Linked DNA regions of Homo sapiens: region 2 is linked to region 1. Evidence: fine-mapped expression QTL. A gene starts in region 1. The other region holds a variant in brackets. All regions are shown on one strand. Distances are from middle to middle. Region 1 holds the start of SSU72 (SSU72 homolog, RNA polymerase II CTD phosphatase). Region 2 holds the start of FNDC10 (fibronectin type III domain containing 10).

Region 1 (5,362 bases):
GAGACGGGGTTTCATCGTGTTAGCCAGGATAGTCTCAATCTCCTGACTTTGTGATCCGCCCATCTCGGCCTCCCAAGGTGCTAGGATTACAGGTGTGAGCCACTGCGCCCGGCCTACTCCATCTTTGTTATGCAGGTACAGCAGAAAATCTTGAACAAAGGATCACCAAGGAGAACCAGCAGAACCAGAAGGTCTCCAGCCCATTTGTTATTCCAATTAACAATAATTTTGTCTTGGGGGGGGGGGGGTGAGCCTTGCATTGTTTTGCTTAAATGTATCAAATTTTTACAGGTAACTGCAGTTTATAAATGAAGATCCAGCACAATGTAATTCTAGCACATTTCTAGTTTTAAAAACAACCTTTGGCCGGATGCGGTGGCTGACGCCTGTAATCCCAGCACTTTGGGAGGCCGAGGCGGGCAGATCACCTGAGGTCAGGAGTTTGAGATTAGCCTGGCCAGCATGGTGAAGCTCCGTCTCTACTAAAAATACAAAAAAAGCCGGGCGCAGTGGCTCACGCCTGTAATCCCAGCACTTTGGGAGGCCGAGCGGGCAGATCACGAGGTCATAAGATCAAGACCATCCTGGCTAAGATGATGAAACTCCGTCTCTACTAAAAATACAAAAAAAAAAAAAAATTAGCCGTGCCTGGTGGCCGGTGCCTGTAGTCCCAGCTACTCGGGAGGCTGAGGCAGGAGAATAGCTCGATCTCGGGAGGCACAAGTTGCAGTGAGCCGAGATCGCGCTACTGCACTCCAGTTTGGGCGACAGAGCAAGACTCTGTCTCAAAAAAAAAAAAAAAAAAAAAAAAAAAGAAAGAAAAGAATAAAGAGAAAGAATCAGCAGATCATGAACACTTGACACTGATTTTTGGGGGGTGTTTTTTGGTCTCCAACTCCTGACTTCAGGTGATCCGCGTGCGTCGGCCTCCCAAAGTGCGGGGACTACACGCGTGAGCCACCGTGCCTGGCCCACGTGACACTGTTAAAAACGGAAAAAAAAGGGGGACTGTTAATTTTCCCAAGTTGCTCAGGAAAGTTATAGCTGGACTGCGAGAAGAGAAGCGAAACACTGTTTTCATTTAAAGTTCACGTAGGTAACTTTGGAGGTAAAAAAGCCATTTCAACTTTCTTACTATCAAAGTTGACACATACCAAATTTTAACTGTAAGTCAAGTGGTCAGTTTCTCAGTTTGCTATGTGACTGAACAAAAAACTTGTTATCAAGCAGGAATAAACTTTCATTAGACATACGCTACGCAAGAGTCACAGGCGGCCAGTTAGCAGGGAATATAAACTAGCAGAGCCAAACCAAGTCCACGTTGTATTCCAGAAACTACCGGTTGGAGGCGTTCCAGGGAGGAAGAGAGGATCTTTCGCAAAAAAAAAAAAAGAAGAAGAAGTAGCAAACACACAAATCCATGGCATTAAAAAAAGAGACCGCTTTGTTATTTACAACATCGTGGTATGCCGTGATTGTGTTGCGCGCCGTTTCCAGGGAAGGTGGCCAACGACGCACACGAAATACCATGATCGGCCGCCGCCGCGCAGCCCCTCGCCGCGGACGCTACCCTCGCCCCCCGGGCCCGGCCTCGGAGAGCTCGAAGGACCACCGGACAGCGGGCGCCTCGTCCCGGAACCTGCCTTCCCTGTGATGCCCACCCGCGTGTGGACTACGCGCGCTGCCGTCCAGCTGCCATCCCAACCAGCCGACCCACGAGCGCGGCCCGGCCCGGCTTCCTCTCAGGGGTCCTGGCGCGGGCCAGGGGGAACCGGGGAGGAGGGAGGGCCGGTCGCCGGAGCAGAGCGCGCGGGGACAGGGTGGAGCCCAACTACCTGAGGATGTTGTGCGCCTCCATGCTCCGGTTCTGGTTGCTCGAGCACACCACCGCCACCCGCAGCGGGGACGACGGCATGGCGGCGGCCGCAAATCCCGCGGCTCTCCCGCTTGGGTTCCCACCCTACCGCGGCGCTTCCGCGCGAACAAAATGGCGGCCGCGGTGGCCGGAAGCGGGCGACGCGAAACGACGGCGCCGGCGGTGTAGCGTGCGGCGACTGCGCGGCGGCCTCCCCGCCCACCCTGGGCGCCGGGCCGCGGACGGAGCGCAGGCACTGGCCTTCGGGCGCGCTGCACTCGGCGAGGCCGGGGGCGGCCAACGCCGCGCCGGCCCCCGGCGTCCGCAGCAGAGACCCGCACTCCACAAGGCCCGGCTGAGCGTCACGGCGCCAAGCGGCGGCGTCCTGACATCAGCACCCCGCGCCGGCGCCTAGTGTGACGCGACGACGTGCGGAACAACAGGACGTCATAAGGTGTCGCCGCCGCCTTTGGGAGCGATGCGAAACGCCGCGCTTGCCGGAGATAGCATTGAGGGCCCTTCCGCGGCCCGGCGTTTCGTCTCTTGGGACGATTTTGTGCGTTCCCTCGGTCCCCGTGGGGCCCATAGTCCTCACTTCTGCCACCCCAGAGTCGTCGCGCTTCACTAGACCCGCTCCCTCCACTGTCCCGGAGGCCCACAGACATTCCCGCATTCTGAGGCTCGCTCCCGTCCCGTGCCGCTGTTACCGGCCTCCGGCCCCGGCTCATACAAGCAGGAGCACATCGCTCTTTTATGAAAGCCCTTCAACATTTAACGTTTAAATGCGAGGGCCGACCTGTGACAGACCTGGTTGGGAGTGCACGTCGACTAGGATCTTCCTCGCCTCGGGCTTCCTTGGAGAGGCCGCCGGCTGGTCTGAGATTTGGGTCCAGTTACAGTAAATCCAGTCAACGCGAGTGTGTCATTCCCCAGCTATGCCTGTCTGCCTGGATGCAGCCTCGCGGTGGACAGTGGGCTGATGTTTTGCCGTGGGAGCGCCACGGACGGGAGAGGGAGTGATAATGATTGTCAACCTAATAACAGGCTAACTGAAAATGATATTTATTTGGGAATAGGGCGTTGGCGAATATGCGTGCCATAGTAAACGATTTGCGCATTCAGGAAAGTAATGGTTTTTAAAGAAAAAATGAAGAGGAAGATAATGGTTTGGAAATAATTAACCTTGGCTACAAAGAACAGTAACAAGTGTACTCCCGGCCGGGCGCGGTGGCTCACGCCTGTAATCCCAGCACTTTGGGAGGCCGAGGCGGGCGGATCACGAGGTCGGGAGATCCAGACCGTCCTGCCTAACCCGGTGAAACCCCGTCTCTACTAAAAATACAAAAAATTAGCCGGGCGTGGTGGCGGGCGCCTGTAGTCCCAGCTACTCGGGAGGCTGAGGCAGGAGAATGGCGTGAACCCGGGAGGCGGAGCTTGTAGTGAGCCGAGATCGCGCCACTGCCCTCCAGCCTGGGCGACAGAGCCAGACTCCGTCTAAAAAAAAAAAAAAACAAGTGTACTCCCGTTCCAGGGTTGGACAGGCAGTTGCTGGGCAGCTGTCCTTGCTGAAGTATTTTTTGTGTAAGATTGCCTTAGTGCAAGGTTGTGGTTTTTGCAGAATCTTGTGATAGTTTTTCTTATTATTGATTCATGAGAATTCTCCATGGCCTTTCCCAGCTGTCTTTGTCAAGGTATTTTTTAAACATAAGTGAGTCCACTTTTATTTGACAACTTGGGTATTTTCCCCTTTTGATTGAGATCTTTCTCCAAATGCATCACTAATGAGTCATCCTGTAATTAGGTTTTGATAGTCCCCGTGCTGGGATGAACTTGTCCCAGATAGCTGGTCTGGTCCCACACTGGAGAGAGTGGCTGCTGGGAGTCATTGTCAAAACCCTTTTTTACCATATTTGAGCATCAAAGGAGGTTTGAAGGGTGTGGCTCTCAGGCTAAGTCTAACCTGGAGTCCATTATTAACTTCAACTTTTGTCACTTCTGTAGTCTTTCTATCATCTCAAAGTGCTGTGTCAGCATTATTCTGTTAGAAATTGTACTTGTAGCCGGGCGCGGTGGCTCACGTCCGTAATCCCAGCACTTTGGGAGGCCGAGGCGGGTGGAACACGAGGTCAAGAGATCGAGACCATCCTGGCCGACATGGTGAAACCCTGTCTCCACTACAAATACAAAAGTTAGCCGGATGTAGTGGTGCGCACTTGTAGTCCCAGCTACTCAGGAGGCTGAGGCAGGAGAATCACCTAAACCCAGGAGGCGGAGGTTGCTATGAGCTGAGATTGTGCCTATGCAGTTCACCCTGGCAACAGAGTGAGATTCCATCTCAAAAAAATAAAAAAAAAGAAATTGTCCTTTTGCAAAATATGGCAATGAATAAGTTTAAAAGGGGAAAATACAAGGTAAAATCAATAATAATATGACTATCCCAGTTTGCATATTGGTTTTGACCCATGAACCTAGGCTTAAAGGAAAGCAATTAAAAAGAAAAAAATTAGAAAACAAAAATAGAAAAATAGAGATTAAAGGAAGCCAATTGAATAAATAAAATGGCCATAGAAATTACACGAGACTTGTAACCATGTGCCTGTTTTCTTTCTGTGTGTAAATGGATCTCAGTGTTCCAGAGGAATTTACCCACATACAGCATATAGTATTGACATACTTATTTAATACCTTATTTAACCAATAGGTACTAAAGATCTCTTAGGTCAGGTTTTTGTGAAGTTACCAGCAGAAGCTATTGATTGTGAAATGTCAGTTATACCATTGATGGCAGTGGCAGCCTCTCTTGAGTGGCTGCTGGGAAGATGCTGGCTACAGCAGGGGAGGCTCAGCTGGGACTCTGTGCTCCACTGAGCATGTGGGAGCCCTGCCCCCTTCCAAGTTGGCAGGACAGGAGCCCCACCCTCCTGGGAGCAGCTGCATCTGCCCAGCCACGGCTGTGGACCCAGGTATCCCTGCAATCCCAGGGCTGGGAAGCCACCCCACCTGCCCCCGAAAGCTCAGAAGTGCCTCCAGCTGCTACCTGGCCTCTCCTGACTCCCGACAAAGCTGAAGCCAAGCCCAGGCGCTGTTGCAACCCAGCCAGGTGTGCACACACTGAGGGCAGTGCTAGCATGCCAGCCCCTTGCTGCCTCGGCCCGCTCTGGACTTTGAGTGCTCACAAGCATGGGAGCAAGGCCAAGGAGGGGCTGAGGGCGGCTCAGCCCAGTCCTGTAGGCGACCCTTGACCTGAACAGCCTGGGTCCTGTAGATGACATGATTGATGGCAGTAGGAGGCACACAGGCTCCTGGGTGGAAAGGGGTGGGTGTCCAGTGAAGACCCCCATTAAAGCTAGGGACTTCCTGAAACATGGGGGCTGGGCTGCCAGTTCTGGGTGGAGTCTGCCGTCCAGAATGAGATTTATGGTGCTTTTTCTGGGCCCGTCCATGGCTGCCCATGGGCCAATCAGTATACACTTTCTCCCTTCTGAAGCCCATAAAAATCCCACTCAG
Region 2 (5,362 bases), 23 kb after region 1:
AGGGAGAGACAGAGAGAGAGAGACAGAGAGAGGCAGACAGAGAGAGAGAGAGACAGACACAGAGAGAGCAGAACAGGGAGAAACAGAGAGACAGAGAGCGAGAGAGACAGACACAGAGAGAGGCAGACAGAGACAGAGAGAGACAAACAGACAGACACAGAGAGAGCAGAACGGGGAGAGACAGAGAGACAGAGAGAAACAGAGACAGAGACAGAGAGAGGCAGACAGAGAGACAGACAGACAGACAGAGAGAGCAGAACAGGGAGAGACAGAGAGACACAGAGACAGAGAGGCAAACAGAGACAGAGAGACAGACAGAGAGAGCAGAATGGGGAGAGACACAGAGACAGAGACAGAGACAGAGAGAGGCAGACAGAGACAGAGAGAGAGACAGACAGACACAGAGCAGAACAGGGAGAGACAGAGAGAGAGAGACAGAGAGAGGCAGACAGAGACAGAGAGAGAGACAGACACAGAGCAGAACAGGGAGAGACAGAGAGAGAGAGAGACAGAGAGAGGCAGACAGAGAGAGAGAGAGAGACAGACACAGAGAGAGCAGAACAGGGAGAAACAGAGACAGAGAGCGAGAGAGACAGACACAGAGAGAGGCAGACAGAGACAGAGAGAGACAGACAGACACAGAGAGAGCAGAACGGGGAGAGACAGAGAGACAGAGAGAAACAGAGACAGAGACAGAGAGAGGCAGACAGAGAGACAGACAGACAGAGAGAGCAGAACAGGGAGAGACAGAGAGAGACACAGAGACAGAGAGGCAAACAGAGACAGAGAGAGAGACAGACAGACACAGAGAGAGCAGAATGGGGAGAGACACAGAGACAGAGACAGAGACAGAGAGAGGCAGACAGAGACGGAGAGAGAGAGCAGGGCGGGGAGAGACAGAGAGACAGAGACAGACAGAGACAGAGAGACAAAGACAGAGATAGAGAAAGACACAGAGAGGGACAGAGAGACATGGAGAGAGACAGAAAGAGAGGCAGAGACAGAGATGGAGAGAGGCAGAGACAGAGACAGAGTGAGGCAGAGAGAGATGGAGAGAGAGAGGCAGATAGAGAGACAGAGACAGAGAGAGGCAGAGAGAGATGGAGAGAGAGAGGCAGATAGAGAGGCAGAGAGACAAAGAGATGGAGACAGAGACAGACACAGAGAGAGGGAAAGAGGCAGAGAGATAGGGACAGAGAGAGATGGAGAGAGACAGAGACAGATACAGAGAGAGGCAGAGAGATGGAGACAGAGAGGCAGAGAGAGATGGAGGGAGATGGAGACAGGGACAGAGAGATAGGGAGAGAGAGAGATGAAGAGAGACAGAGAAACAGAGAGAGAGAAACAGAGAGAGAGAGAGAGAGCCAGAGACAGAGACAGAGAGATACATGGGAAGGAGAGGGAGAGAATGGAGAGAGACAGAGAGAGGGAGGGGAGGCTCCTCCAGGTAGAGCAGAAGGAAAGAAACTTCGGGGCGGGACTGGAAGGTGCACCAGGTCAGAAGGAGGGGTTGGGGGTCCCCATGCCCCTGGGAGGATAATGGGGCCAGCCGGGAAGGTGGCCAGCTAGGGAACGAGCAGTCTGTGCCAGTGACCACGAGCTCAGATGCAGACGCCCCTCCCTGGCAGGGACGCCCACTCCCAGGCCAAGGCTTGTCCCCTGGGCCTTGCAGGCTGCTCAAGCCACTTCTGCAAACCCTCAGCTGGACTCCATGCCTCTGAGAAGCCCCCAGAACTGGCAGGACAGGCCTGTGGCTATAGCCCGTGTGAGCCTAAGCTCACAAACAAGCCGGAATCCCACCGCAGGCCAGGGAGCCTCCGAAACTTCCCGGCTGCTCCCCAAGGAGCCGTGCTGCCCCAGCTCCCTGGACGCTGCCTTTGCTGGTAGAAGACATGGAAACACCCTTGCAGGTGACCAGGGCAGAAGGTGGCTGGAACGGGAAGCCCCCCACTCCCACCAGGCTGTCTACACACATCGCTGCACACCCCCTCTAGGGATGAGTCACTCCTCAGAGCTGGGCTCCTCCTCCCCCTCCCCCTCCGCCCCCCCCCCCCCCGCCTGTTTTTGCTTCCTCAGGGTCACCCCTGGCTGCAAGTGCCTCAAGGACAGCCTGGAAGAGCCTGTGGGGGAGGGAGGGTGGCATTCAGCACAGGATACACACAGGAGCCCCAGGCTGTCCTCTGCCCACCGTCCCCACCCCAGCTCTAGCTCTGCCAGGGAGGCCCAGGCAGGGAGGTGAGCCCCTCCGGAGCAGCCTAATTGCCACTGTCACAGCTCAAGTGTGTCGCCGTGGGAATGGGCTATTTCTAAGCACGGCAGGTACCGTCTTCCCCTTCCCCCGCCAACACAGCTGGCCCAGGACAAGAAGGTGCAGAGACAAACAGGGGGCACCCTGCCTGTCCTGCTAGGAACTGCAAGGCAGCGTGCCGCACACGCTGCCTGGGCCAATGCCACCCAGGCCAGGAGAGGGTTTGGGGCCAGACACCAGCCCATACCCAAGGGTCCCAGGGGATGTGGGGAGAAGGGGAATCCACCTTTTCCTTCCCTCCCACCTCCCAAATAACACACAGACAGCTCTGTTGGTCTGAGAATGATGGACATTTAGACACTGGCGCCAGGTTTGCGCCTGACCGGCGCCACGCAGGGGTGGGCGGAGCAAAGACACA[C/G]AGGTGGGCTACAGGTGTCACACGGCACCAGCCAGGGCCCGGGGTGGCTGGGGTGAGGATGGGTGTTTGGCCAGTGACCAGGAGTCAGGTCAAGTCCAGGTGGTCAGTGCCAGGGGCTCCAGGAGGGGAGGGCAGTGCCATAACCCTCCTGGTGTCCAGCGTCACCAGGCGGTCGTCACAGAAAGCAACCTCGGCCCGGGGCCCGGGTCTGCAGCAGGTGGGCAGGGTCAGCTTTTCTTCCATGGCGGGTGGCATTGTCTGGGCCGGATACTGGCTCTCGACCCCTGGGCATGCAAAGGCTAGGGGTGGTGCTGTCAGTCACACCGTTGCCACCAAGGTCCCCTGGGTCGGCTGAGGCTTGGGATCCAGGCAGCGGTGGAAGGTCGGGCTGCTCAAGGCCGGTATCTAAGCTTCTGCCCTGGGACCCAGTGGTGATGGCCGCCATCTGCCCCATTCCCACAGGGACCTAGTCAGAGGTCGCACACACAAAAGGGGTACCTGGCCCTGGAGAACCACCAGCTGCCCGGGGTCTGAGAACACTCACCCTGGCCGCTGGGCCAGGCCTGCCAGGCTCCCGGCTGGTCCAACACCCTAAACGGTACAGAGCGCTGCAGGCCCTCACCTCATGCTTCTGCAGCGCTTGAGGGTGAAGGTGTCTCCAAGGGGACGCTGGCCAGATGCATGGAGAGGCCGGCCAATCTTAGGGCCACAGACCCCCCCTGGACAGCAGAGGGTGTTGGCTCCTGCAGTGGGCCCGAGATACTAAGGCACGAAGCTAACCTAAGCCCAGTGGGGTGGGGCGGGGCAGGACAGGCTTGGAGAGCTGCGCCCCAGGCCTGCAAAGCACAGTGACCGAGCAATGGCGACGGTCTGTCTGGGACAATTCGGCACAGGATGGAGGTGCGGGGTGAGCCGGAGTGCCCATGGCTCTTGCTGGAAGGGGCTCCATGCCCTGGCCGCCTCTATAAAGGCCTGCGGAGAGCGGGGAGAGCCCTGGATGCGGCTGGCACAGCAGCGCAAGCCCAGGGGCCAATCCGGGGCCAGAGTCTGGGAGTCTGACGCCCGGCTGGAAAGGGCGTGTGATGATGCCAAAGTGCCGGAGCCGTCGCCGGCAGGTCCTCCTCCGCGGGGATCTTAAGGAGGCAGCAGGAATGAGGAGAGGAGAGCGGGCGGAGGACCTGGGAGCTCAGGCGCCCTCAGGCAGGTGGCGCAAAGATGGGCGGGCGGCCTCGCGCTTCAGGGGTGTCTGCGCAGGCCGGGGCGCGCGAGGGCCGGGCGCATGAGGTTCTCGGTGATGTAGGCCACCAGCAGGCAGATGACCACCAGCATGACGCAGATGGAGCCGCCCACCGCCGTCATGGCCACCACGATGTCCTGCATGCCGGCCGGCTCGGCGGTGAACTCCACGCACTCGGCCGGCTCGGGGGTCTCTGGCGCGGCGGCGGCGGGCCCAGCGCGCAGCGGCAGCGGCTGCAGGCACAGGCGGTAGAGGACGCTGTCGTGCACGTCGGGCAGCAGGTAGTCGCGGCAGGAGGCCCCGAGGAGCACGCGCTCGCACGGGAAGCGCGTGTAGGCGCCGCGCCACGAGCAGTTGAGCGCGAAGGCGCGCACGCGGCGCGCGGCGGCCGGGGCCAGGCGCCACTGCAGGAGGACGCTGCGGTTGCGCAGGACGCTGGCGCGCAGGGAGCGGCCGGCCGGGGCGTGCAGCACGCAGCCCGGAGCCTGGCAGCGGAAGCCGCGCGCGGGGCTGCGGAAGCACAGGCGCCCGCCGCCCGCCTCGGGGCCCTCGGGCAGCACCTTGTAGGGGCACCAGGGCGCGTCGGGGGTCGGCTCCCAGCCCGGCGGCGTCGGGGCGGCCGCGGCGCAGGGCGGCGGCGCGCAGGCGGCCAGCAGCAGCAGCAGCGGCGGGGCGCGCATCCTGCGGCGGGGCCACGGGGCGCGGCGCTGGGTCACGCGGGCCGCGCCGCCGCCGTCCCCGCTGCCCGCTCCCCGCGATCCCCGGCGCGCCGCGCCCTCCGCCGCCGCCCGCTCCGACCCGCCCCCGCGCCCCGTGCGCGCTCGGACCCGGCGCGGCGGCGGAGGCGGGGCCGCCCCTCGCCCCGCCCCCCTTAACCCTCGCCGGGCCGCGGCCTACGGGTGCGGGGGATCGGGGGTGGGGGGGAGGAGGGGGACGCAGCGAGGCGGCCGGAGTGCCGGTGGGGCTGGGGTGCGGGCAGGGGCGCGGGGTGCGGGCAGGGCCGCCGCTCTCCCGGCTTCCCGCCTAGTGAGCGCACCTTGGACCCCTGCGGCTTTTCCGAGCCGAAACTCACGGGCTGTGGCCGGCTTCGTTTCGCGTCGTGCAGCTCCGCGACCGCCCGTGGCCACACCAGTCGGGGACTTCGTGCTTTACGATGGGGGCGCAGCGGTCTGGCACGCGCAGGACCCCGGGCCTTGCACCCCAACGCTGGCCGCCCTGGACCCGCGGCGGGGACCCGCGCAGTCAGGGTACCTGCCCATACCGATGGGGTGGGGACCAGCACGGAGACTTTCCTTCACCCCGCGGCTTCTGTTCCTTTCAGGACGGACAGCGCCCACCCGGAGGAAAGCCTGACAGATGAGACTTCGCAAGGTGAGAACTCCCTTCGCTCCACACGCAGCGGAGGCAGCTGCAGGGCGCCGACCTTCCCTGCCTCATTGCGCCCCCTCCTCCTCCAGAT

Evidence for each region.
Region 2: its variant is fine-mapped to the expression of SSU72 in whole blood (TOPMed, PIP above 0.99).

The regions. Positions count from the first base shown.
Region 1 is chr1:1,572,643-1,578,004 of GRCh38, forward strand. SSU72 (SSU72 homolog, RNA polymerase II CTD phosphatase) reads right to left here and starts at 2,221. Exons shown (of 5, transcript NM_014188.3): 1 at 1,836-2,221. The coding sequence starts at 1,915. It overlaps SSU72-AS1 (SSU72 antisense RNA 1), which reads left to right and starts at 2,305. Exons shown (of 1, transcript NR_197593.1): 1 at 2,305-4,429. RefSeq lists silencers at 1,705-1,784, 2,025-2,184, 3,844-4,013 and enhancers at 2,305-2,414, 2,425-2,494, 4,412-4,954.
Region 2 is chr1:1,595,433-1,600,794 of GRCh38, forward strand. FNDC10 (fibronectin type III domain containing 10) reads right to left here and starts at 4,703. Exons shown (of 1, transcript NM_001242659.2): 1 at 2,580-4,703. The coding sequence starts at 4,583. The coding sequence ends at 3,903. It overlaps LOC105378586 (a long non-coding RNA gene), which reads left to right and starts at 4,001. Exons shown (of 3, transcript NR_147951.1): 1 at 4,001-4,184; 2 at 5,225-5,274. RefSeq lists silencers at 2,032-2,081, 4,310-4,429, 4,730-4,779 and enhancers at 3,198-3,856, 3,857-4,516, 4,517-5,176, 5,177-5,362. The variant C/G (reference allele first, on the strand shown) is at 2,667.